2 separate regions of the Homo sapiens genome follow, and region 1 is linked to region 2. Evidence: fine-mapped expression QTL. A gene starts in region 2. The other region holds a variant in brackets. All regions are shown on one strand. Distances are from middle to middle.

Region 1 (5,382 bases), 790 kb before region 2:
GGAGAATGAGGGAAGGGGATTCTGTGTGTTTAGTCTATAGAGATCTAATGATACTACAGAGATCTAATAAAACTATGACTCATGGCAGGTCAAGGAGTTCATTTAGGCTTGTTTTGTGAAGGTATCTGGGCTTCCTATTGAAACAGTTGTCAGGTTGACAGGTTGAGGTCAAGCTTGATCCTTTTGAGGGTCTCTGCAGATAGATACTCCCTTTGAAATAGCAAGCCCCATATCTGACAGATGGATGTCTCTAGGGATCATGGATACTGGAGACAATTTCCTTTCTGTTCCCATCTCCTACCCACAAATCATGAGGAAGAAAGGAAGCAAAATGACAACGGCTTTTCTGATTTGGTTTCTTAAGCTGGCTTCCTGGCTAAGTCACTCAGATAAGTTTGTCTAATTTCATGGAATGTTTCCAACAGGAAGGCATCATGTGGGTTGAGGGAGATAGTGAGCGACAGATAAGAGTTACTATCCCTAAGCAGTTAGTTGCTGGGCACCAAAGGCAAGCTAGCCCAATCTCTCTGTCAAGTCGACTAAGGAATCTGTACTTTAGATATTCCCTTGAGCTAAAATTTTGTTTGGAAAATTCCAATGTTGTTTCTGTAGCCAACTGGCCAAACTGAAAGATCAGATCCAATATCATCTTTGATGAAATAGTAATCTCAGTACATATGATGTATCCCCTATAGTATAGACAGCACCAGCAAGCCCGTTTATCCTGAAAGAAATCAGGGCCATGATTACACTGCATCTCTTTTCCTCATGATTTCTCCCACTCATTTATTCATCAGATGCCTTTTTTTTCTCTGCTCCTTTCTTGCTTTCCATATATCTATTTGAAATATGTCTGAAATAAATCTCAAGGCTCCCAGGAATATTTCTGCTCATGTAAGCATGTGTACAATTTTCATCCTCATGTTTTCACACAAGCAATGTTTAAATGCCAAAGGGAAAGGGCTTTTGCTGTGTTTGTTTCTTCTTTTTTTTTTTTTTTTTTTTTTTTTTTTTTTTTTTTTTTTTTGCAGTATGCTTTACTTTTTTCTTGCCACAGTTGGATGCAGGCTATGGATTCTCTTTTAAATGTTATTTCTGAGGCAGAAAGAGGAAATGGAAAAGCTTAAATCCTGACTTTGCCACTTACTCATTATTTGACCTTCAAGATGTGACTTAAATTCTCAAAGCCTCAGATTTCTCCCTTGTAAACTGAGGATGAAAAATAGAGATAAAGTATTTCTCTTAGTCTATATAAAGCATTAAGTATTAGTGGCTATAAATTAGTTCCCTTTTCTTTCCTTTTCCAATTAGATGATCTTAAGACAATTTAACTAGAAAGTTCATGTTGTTCAATTATAAACATGAATCTCTTCTAATCAAGGTTATCTGTGTGTTAGAATAGGGGGTCTGAAAGGCCCTGCAGTCTAAATAGAAGTGGGGTGATGCAGTCGAAGGAAGGAGGGAGATATGACTTTGATGCAATGGTTTCAAAATGGAAACTTGCGGGCAATGGATTAGCCTATTTTGCAGCTCTGCTGGACATAAGTCCAGGTAAGCAACCAGGTACTGTCAAGTAACAAAATGATGCTTGTCTCCTCATAAGCTTCCTAGGAAAATGAGAATTCAATTTAATGACTTAAGGTAGAAAGGATCTCAAGAGATGATCAAGCTTAGACTTGGGCCACTTGGGATAAGGTATGTGAAGTACTTAGCCAAGGGCTTGGTACATGGCCCTCCTTGTCAGCATGTGTAATAGTTGGGGTAGTAGGGATGGTTATAATAATTATTATTGTTATTTTATCATTACTATTATTAGGAAGCATTTGTCTAGAATCAAGTCAAGCAAAGTTTGGTAACACTTTCTTCTCTGTCTCTAGGCTTTATCCACATATCGGATCTACAGGGTCTAAATAGACATCCTATGAAATATGCCCCTCATGACTTCTAGACTGTGCCCCAAGTTCTTCTCTAAGGAAGTTGAACACTAGTGTGTCATTTAGCTTTACCATATCTTAGATTAAAACATCTACATGTTTATTGCTAAGGAAGGAAACCAAAGCCCTGAAAATGACCATGATTATTAATCCAAGGATGTTGAGCGGCTCTGAGGCAGAGAGGAGGAGAGACCTGCAGCTGGATTCTCTGTGGTGGGTGGGAGCAGCTGTGCCATTGTGCATTCAGGGGTGGGCATCACGTGGACCACTGGGAAGACACGGTGGGGGGTGGCTTTTGCATACTTGTGTCTCTATCTCCCACCTCCATGCTAGCTTTTCCCCTGACACACCTCTCTGTCTTACCCAGTGGGAATTTTGGAGAATTGACCATTAGACAGTTTATCAGTTGTGCAAGCACAGTTTCATAGAGTTTAGTCTGCTTAACTCAAATTCAGAAGCATTTATCACCCTGCCACCAAGGCAGTTGACAGCTAGTATATAAATGCCCTAAAAATTCTTTCAAAATGATGCCTTTGCTTGGTCCTTGAAGCTGTTGATTTAAAGGCCTTGAATTGGGAATGTCCTAGCTGTAAGCCAAGGTGGACGTGCCACTTTCTTTCATTATCTTCTACTAAAAGCACAGGCAGTTTAATTCATACCCGTTGTTTCTATTCTATTTTTTTCCAATTTTGAGATTGCTTTTTATTTTTTCAACATGTTGCATGTCACAATTCCATTAATTTCTGTCACCCCACCAATATCTACTAGTGGTTCACAGGCCTTACTTTTTAGTAGTTTTGTTGGACATAAGCCCAGATATAAACCAGACAGTGCGAAGTCAC[A/T]GAATGAAGATTTTCTCTTTAATGAATTCCCAGGGTGAGTGGAAATCAGTTTAATGTCGTTCTAGATAGTCATATTTCGTTACAACATCCTCTTCACGAATGCTTTACACGCCTATGTTTTTAAAGCATTAATTTCTAGTTTTAAACCACTAGATTCGAAAGTACTTAGAATTATGTGATAGTTGAATGTGTCCCTTGTGCAACACCCTTGTGGGGAAGTGGACATTTCTTCCATGATTTCTAGTCACTAAACCTGAAAGAATTCCCTTAGCTTGGTGCTAAAAGTCATAAAGGATTTTCTAATTGCTATATAAACAAGACTTCTCATCTAGAAAGACCCAAGAGGTTACAGTCTTGTGTGGCTTGGTTAGCTATATGCAAGCTTTGTGCTATACAGTTAGTGCCACATATGAATAGTCCTCTGGCGACCTCACAGGGTTTGAAGCTTTTCTTGTGACCCATTAAACCAAATCATCTTCACTCTACGTCCATGGCTGTTCCTTTGCTTCTTGCCTATTTTTTCATGTTTTTTTTCATGTACGTTTCATGTGTCTTCAACTCTACCTGATGACCGATGTTCAACTTCATCTGATGTTACATCCTGACCTCTCACAGACCGGATTAGCCACATTGATAATTCCTTATTTTGAAAAACTGTAAAATATACACAATCTGACATCTCTTGGATCATGGCCCCAATATATGATCTGGATTCAGGCATTTATGAAACACCAAAATAAGGGCTCACCTCTCTGTAACGATTGCTATTTCCTTTATTCCCTATTATAAAATAATCTGGGTTCATTGGGATATCTGTATATTGGACGGCCATGGATAAACTTAGAAATTTGCATTTAAGGAGACAAATTAGTACCTCAGATCTTTAAAGTCAATCCTATCCATTTCCTCAGCTTTAAGTTACAGCTGCTAATTGATTTCCCTCTGCTTTCATACCAACATATATCCTACTTCTTTTAAATGTCTATTTATTTTTGCACAGTGCCATGAACAATAAAATTGAGCCTAAAATATCTAGCACTATAAGCCCCACCTAGTCCGGGTGCATTTTGCCATTTTATTGTTCTCCCCGCCTCACAGGTTCACTCACATGACATGTTTCTATTTCAAGTATAACACAATGAGTCTTCACCAAAGCATCAAAGCCCATTACTGAAAACAAAATTAAACACGTCCAGTGTAATTTAATGCTTAATTTTTTAAAAAAACTGTTGTTTTCACTCCTGCCACATACAGAATCCCTCATCCTCGGGGCAAGCAGTAAGTGGAAACATGTACCACAAAACGCAGAAAGTTATTCTCTCCTACCTAGTAGGTGAGTTGATTTGTAAAATGTAAAGTTAGCATAATGTCAACTCTTGGCAAAAGGAAAATTGAAGTACCAGCACATCAAGTGTGGTTTTGAGGGAAGTGTTATGCTGTGACCAACGTGGGTAAAGAAAAAAAATGAGGGCTGAGTAAACCTTCAATGAGTTCTATAATTGTACCTACCATTTATGATTGTGAAATACAATTCCCCCACCCCCAAGAAAAGGATAAAGCTTAAGTCCTGACAGCATGAGATGCAAGTGTGTTTATGACATGACCCCTCTTCTTCCTCATTACTCACTCCACTCCCAAACTCCATGCCACAGCCACACTGATATGATAGATGTCTCCTAGGAGTGTCTCACCATCTCAACTCATGCCCTTGCAGACATTAGTTAATCAAATGGGACCTCTGTTCTGCATCTTGCCTAACTTCAATCCATTCTTGCAAATGCTCTACTGATACTCTCTTCTCTGGGAAGCTTTTCTGACTTCTACAGTCTCTGTCAGATGGGCAAATAGTGGACTAAGCATAGTTCTATTTAACAAATGCTTGAGATGGAGTCTTGCTCTGTCCTCAGCTCACTGCAACCTCTGCCTCCCAGGTTCAAGCAATTCTCCTGCCTCAGCCCTGAGTAGCTGGGACTACAGGCATGTACCACCATGCCTAGCTAATTTTTGTGTTTTTAGTAGAGACGGGGTTTTACCATGTTGGCCAGGCTGGTCTTGAACTTCTGACCTCAAGTGATCTGCCTTCCTCAGCCCTCCAAAATGCTGGGATTACAGGCTTGAGCCACCACACCCGGCCAGAGGTAGTATTCTATTTATTGTTGATTTGCCAGCATCTAGAAAAATGCCTCCTTTGGGAAAGAGTAGGTGCTCAATAATTGTTTTCTGAAAGACTTATGCAAGAAGTAGATGACTGTTGTATTAACCATCATTCCCCCAACCTGGTTTTGTCACAGAAACAAGATCACAGTTTGCATACCTCCTTTGAGGGTGTGATCAATGCCATAGCGACATGAAGTAAATATGGCTCAGGCCATCAATGGAACTGAAGTCCAACCAACAATTCAAGAATAGTACCTGAGGAAATGGTATATAGGCAATGATAATGGTCACTATTAAAATACCCATTGTCCTTCATTTGTCAAGATGACTTTTCTAATTCCTTCAATGGAATGTTTATTTTGAGTCATAATCCAGTTATGAGAAGAAAAATGATCTTATTTTTATATTCAGAGTTATGATGAAAGGAAATTGTGGTTTGAGAATTTAGA
Region 2 (5,382 bases):
TTTCCAAGTATATTGGAGTCCACCCAGGAAAAAAGCCAGGCAGGTTGACAAAAAGTGTAGGCAAGTGTTCCCAGCCTCTCCACTGCATACTCAACGAGGGAAATCATAAAACCACAGTCATTCAAACAGCCATTTAGAGTTTACAAGCGCTTTTCAGATGTATTCTCTTAATCCTCACAGAAATGCTAAGGAACGTATTTTTAAGGCCCTTGTTTTACAGATTACATAAATGGAGGCTCAGAGAGGTCGAGGGACTTTCATAAGGATAAACAGCCGAGTAAGTGCCAGACAAGGGGCTGGATCCAGTCCTTTCTGCCTCTCGCACCTGTGCTGTGGGCTGCCTGCCTCCTGCTTCACCCAGACCCACATCAGTCAGTCTGATTTTCTGCCTCACACCCACGCTGTAAAGGCCAGGAAGTTGGAACATGTCTGGGTAGAAATCTGATTCTCAGACCTTCGGGACAGAGATAAAGAAGCTGTTTTCAAGTTGTGGTAGGGAAAACCACTTACCCCTTCCTCATGTGTGCAGGAAAAAGTTAACACACAGAAAACTGATGTTTCTTAGTGGCCCGGTTTATTTTATGCCCCTAAAGAGTCAGAAATGGTGATATGCTTAAGTAGGAGGACATCCACAAACATAGCACAGGGATATTCTGTTATGCTTGTGTTTGCCTTTTCTGTCCCTCCAATCTCTTTCTTCCTTCCCTTGGCAACCTTTTGGGGCACTCCTAAAAGACATGGGAACTGAGACCTAAGCTCACATTTGGTTCAAACTTATTCACTGCTTTCCCCAAAGGTTTGAGAAGCAATTCAAAGCCTTCTGTCTGTCACCTTGTGCACAAGAAGAGACAGACTGGTTTGAATTGGTAAGATCTTTGGGATCCCCAACTGAGACAGGTTCAGCTAACCCTTTCTCAGAAACAATGTGAGCTCACCTAGTTTAAGTCCATGGGGAGCAGGGATGGGGACAGGACATCAAATCCATCATGAAAGATTATTCCACAGAATATATGTTCTGGGTTCTCTTTTTTAAAAAGCGTTTCAGAGTTCTGACTTCTACCGTAGAGACAGAAACAGGGCTTAGGGAAGCACTTGGTGCAGGCCAGGCCAGGAACCCAGGTCAATTCTAAACCAAACTCTGATCAACTGAGGAGTAAACAGGAAGCGTGCTCCTGTTATCATAATGTTCTGCTTAATTGGGAACTAAGTAGAGTCTAGTGAACATAATTAAATCTTTCTTTGATAATTGGGAATCTAGCAGTGCCCCGGGGTGATCATGCTAAACATCAATTATCAATTCTCACTGGTGGGAATGCAGGCAATTGAGTTCAACCTGAAGTGACTTTGAGGCCGACTACAGGACATTCATTTTTACTGAACCCCTATTACCAACTTATTACTTTCCCTCTTTCCTAGACAGCTAGTGCAAGGAAAATTCTGTCCATGAGATATTTTCAGTTGTTTGAATCAGTTAATCAAGATCTCCATGCAACTATTCAGAAATTAGAAGAGGTCTCAGAATGTCAGCTTATTGTACCTGGTTATTAAATCAAATAAATCTAGCCAGATACAAATAAATCCTTGGATTTATTTTGCAAATTTCTTTTGAGGTCCACTCCTGCCTCCAGTACCCCTGGTCAGATACATTCTCACCTTGCATGAATCAGATAGAATGAGTCAAAGGACGCCAAGTCAACTGAATATTGAAGGCCCAGTTCTCCTACTATGTAGCCATTTGACATCAAGGAGCCTATTTCACTTCTGAGATTCCGTTTCCTTATCTGCACACCTGAAGGTTGCACTTATTGGTTCTTAAACTTTCAGGAATACAAATCTTCTTAAGAATCAGAGAAAAATGGCCAGGTACAGTGGCTCACGCCTGTAATCCCAGCATTTTGGGAGGCCGAGGTGGATTACCTGAGGTCAGGAGTTTGAGACCAGTCTGGCCGACATGGTGAAACCCCATCTCTACTAAAAATACAAAAAATTAGCCAGGCATGGTGGCAGGAGCCTATAATCCCACCTACTTGGGAGGCAGAGGCAGGAGAATTGCTTGAACCTGGGAGGCAAAAGTTGTAGTGAGTCGAGATCACACCATTGCACTCCAGCCTGGGCGACAGAGTGAGACGCTGTCTCAACAAAATAAAAACAAAAACAATCAGAGGAAAATTAAGAACATTTTTCCCAACAGGGAAAAAGGAAAATACGTACAAAATGTTTATATTCTAAACAGGGGAATGGGGTCATGGACCCCCCCCCGCCCCCACAAGCCCATCATCTTGTGACCCCTTCCAGGAACTTCCAGCTTAAACTCCTGGGGTAGAAGACCCCTTGGGCCTTTTTGAACACTGGCATCCTCTGAATCCAGCTAACTACAAGCATAGAGAGTAGTGGTTCTCAGCCTTAAATCTACATGGAGACCCCGGGGGAGTTTTCAAACTCTAACGCTCGGATTGATCCCTAGATCAGTTAAATCCATGTCTTTGGGGGTGGGTCCCAAGCATGAGTATTTTTTGACCCTCTCCAGGTGATTCTAATGTGCAGACAAGTTTGCAAACCACTGCTGTAGAACAAGAATTCTCAAAATTAGGAATGAATAGCATCCCCCAGGGAGAAGGCAGTTTCCCAGGCTACTGCCCTACATGATTCAAACACCTTCTAGTCAGATCCTGCCTGGGAAAATGCACTGATAGTCGGCATCCCAGGCCATTCTGATGTAACTACAATGTGGGAGCCCAGTAAGATAGCCATTTAGCAGGAGATACCCAGAAGGGTCCTCTCCTCACCTACCCTGTCCTCCCAGACAGCTCTGCATGCTCTCAGCAGGTCTCCAGCCTTATTCAGGAGGAGCCTCAACAGGTCCCCTTCATTTGCCAAACAGGCTTTTTCTCCACCTTTCCCATTTCTAGAAAACTCGGATCTTTTACCCAGAGCCTCTGATCCCACGAGGATCAATAATTTAAGCAGAACAATCATCAACATCGTCGTGTTTAATATTTGAATTCCATAGCATCACTTAGGTCAGCTTCAAGGTGAGAGCCGACTCCTGTTCTCTTGCTGTTAACAAACTGGGCCAGTGACTGCCAGAGGGGACTGTGTGCATAGCTCCCAGGCAGGCCAGCCCAGGCAAACACCCAGCCCGCCGGGTTCTGCACCCACTCTACCCTTTCCTACCTGAAGCGTGTGCAGCAGGACCTGTAGCCCACTAGCTTCTTGTTCGGCCATCCTTTTCTCGGGTCCTAGGGAACCGCTGCCTGCGGCCAGATCCAGGCTGGAGAGGCAGCGGCTGCCAAGCTGACCTCGCTGCCCGCCTCGCAGGAGACGACTGCCCGGAGGCCTCAGCTGCACATGCTGCTGAGTGTGAAGTCAGCGCGGTGCAACCCTAGACCTCGGCACAGGCGTGAATACCCACCGACTCCCACTGTGGGGATTAGGTGAGCCCCTGCTGTGGGGAGGGCTGAGCATTTGGGTGCAGGGGTGGGGAGGGCACCAGCATGAGTCACTCACCCACCTCCAGGCCCATGCAGGAGCAGAGCAAAGGAGAAGCCACCCTGGATGGCTGACAGGCATTCCCAGCTGACCTGGTCAGACTCCCTCTAGAGGCTCGCTCAGCCCGCCCCGCTACCCCACCCCACCTCTTTATTTTGGTCTGTTGCCGGCTCCCGGGTAACAGGAGACCCAAGAGTGCTTGCACAACTGTGGCAGTTCAGGGCATAGAAACCCAGGGCCCCCTGAGGTCCCAGGCTTAGAAACAGGAGCTCTGGCTGAAAAGGAAAATAAGTATTCTGGACATTTTTTATGGACCACGTCCCTTACGTAATCTTTTAATTTTTACAGTAACCTAATAGAGGTGGGTACTATTATGACTACCCTATCCCTGTTTTACAAATAAGAAAACTAAGGCACTGAAATGTTAAGCCACAAGAACACAGAGCTTAGAATTGCATGCCAGGCCTCAAACAGGCAAGCTGGCACCAGAACACAAGCACTACCCATTGCACCATCCTGCCTCTTGCTGCAGCAAACACTTCAAAGTAATGGAGGTCTGAGAGCCATGTCCTCAGCCTCAGGGACAGCAGATGCCCGGGACAAGTTTCCTTCAGACCAATGTAGAATCCATGATCACTTTCTATGTTTTCTGCTAGGGATGTGTGAGCAGAGTCTTAGCGACTAGCTTCTCCTCCTCCCCATATCAACACCCTTCAATGCTGACTTCTCAAAGTATGGTGCTAGGGCGTCACCTGGAAGCTTGTTACGCCTCTCCCCAGAACTACTGTGTCCGAAACTGCATTTAAACCAGATCCTCGGGGGATTTAGAGCTGGTTAACAAAATGACCAGAGGATTAAAGTTTGGAAATCTCCAATTTCGACTATATTGATTACATTGCCTGCGTGTTCAACAACTCTGACAATATTTGACCCAATAAACGAGTGCCCAGCAAGGTCAAAGCACAACTTTACTGTGTTGAAAGCTCGCTTTATTGCATGAAATTGGAGCGCTGAGCTCAGTGGAGATTCTGACTGAGAGCACGGTCAGGTATTATAGAAGAGTCTCAGTGACTGGGGGAGTGGGCTGCCAGCCAACACCCCCGTGCGGAGTTTAGGGAGATTCTGTGAGCATCACAAGCATTCATTAGGCAGGTACCAAGCACATTGGGGTGACTGAAGAAACTGCATTTCCAGATCCTGCTTGGCCTAAGTGTTCTGAAGTCCCGAGTCAGGGGTCAGGCCTGGCCAAACCCTCAATTCAAGGGCAAATTCATGTAGTCCTGCCCTCAAGAAATTTCCACTTAATGGCTTTAAATATGAAGGCCTCCCATCTTGGGAACTGACTATAAGCGCTCACATTTATGAAGCTTGCGGGGTGGGGTTGACGCCGTCTACCCCTACCCCAATTTCTCTACATCTGCTGCCAGGAGGGTAGAAATAGAGGTTCTCTATGGATTTCTATGGGAGGGTGACGCTTTTTAGGGCATGTGCTCTCTAATCCTCTAAGGCCCAGGGTGAAGGGAAGACAGAACTGTCTCATGTGATTGTCTTAAGGGGAGATCATTTCATGGTTGTCAACTGGAGGATAAAGAAAAGAGATGGGGGAAGAAAGAAACAAAACCATTTTCCCAACATAGACCTAAAAAATAGTTCAAAGATAAAAAGTAGTGAGAAGTCATAAAAATGACCTCAGAGGAGAGAACTAAAGGTTTTGTGGTCACACTCCCTGATATTAGAATTGGAGCAAAATTTTCTCCATTTTGAAGAGTGTCTCGGTTAAGCTGCCTGGAATTGCATAGGGCAGAAGTGAGATTAAAATCCTATATGTAAAGGATTGCTCTCTTCTACTTAATGATGACTTTCCCCCCACCGCAGTGCCAGGAACCTGGTTTC

Alleles and levels. Alleles are on the strand shown, and positions count from the first base shown. SD is a standard deviation of normalised expression in the study named.
In carriers of allele T in region 1, the expression in skeletal muscle of the gene that starts at base 3,327 in region 2 tends to be lower than with A alone (large effect, 0.82 SD a copy in FUSION).

Evidence for each region. PIP is the estimated chance that this variant, and not a neighbour inherited with it, causes the effect.
Region 1: its variant is the best candidate, but not a certain one, in a credible set for the expression of AGBL1 in skeletal muscle (FUSION, PIP 0.65).

What each region holds. Positions count from the first base shown.
Region 1 is chr15:86,866,100-86,871,481 of GRCh38, reverse strand. The region is part of intron 22 of AGBL1 (AGBL carboxypeptidase 1); the gene reads right to left. Among named protein-coding and RNA genes, the nearest start is that of AGBL1-AS1, 550 kb to the right of the region's middle. The variant A/T (reference allele first, on the strand shown) is at 2,777.
Region 2 is chr15:86,077,816-86,083,197 of GRCh38, reverse strand. AGBL1 (AGBL carboxypeptidase 1) reads right to left here and starts at 3,327. Exons shown (of 23, transcript NM_001386094.1): 1 at 3,175-3,327. The coding sequence starts at 3,225.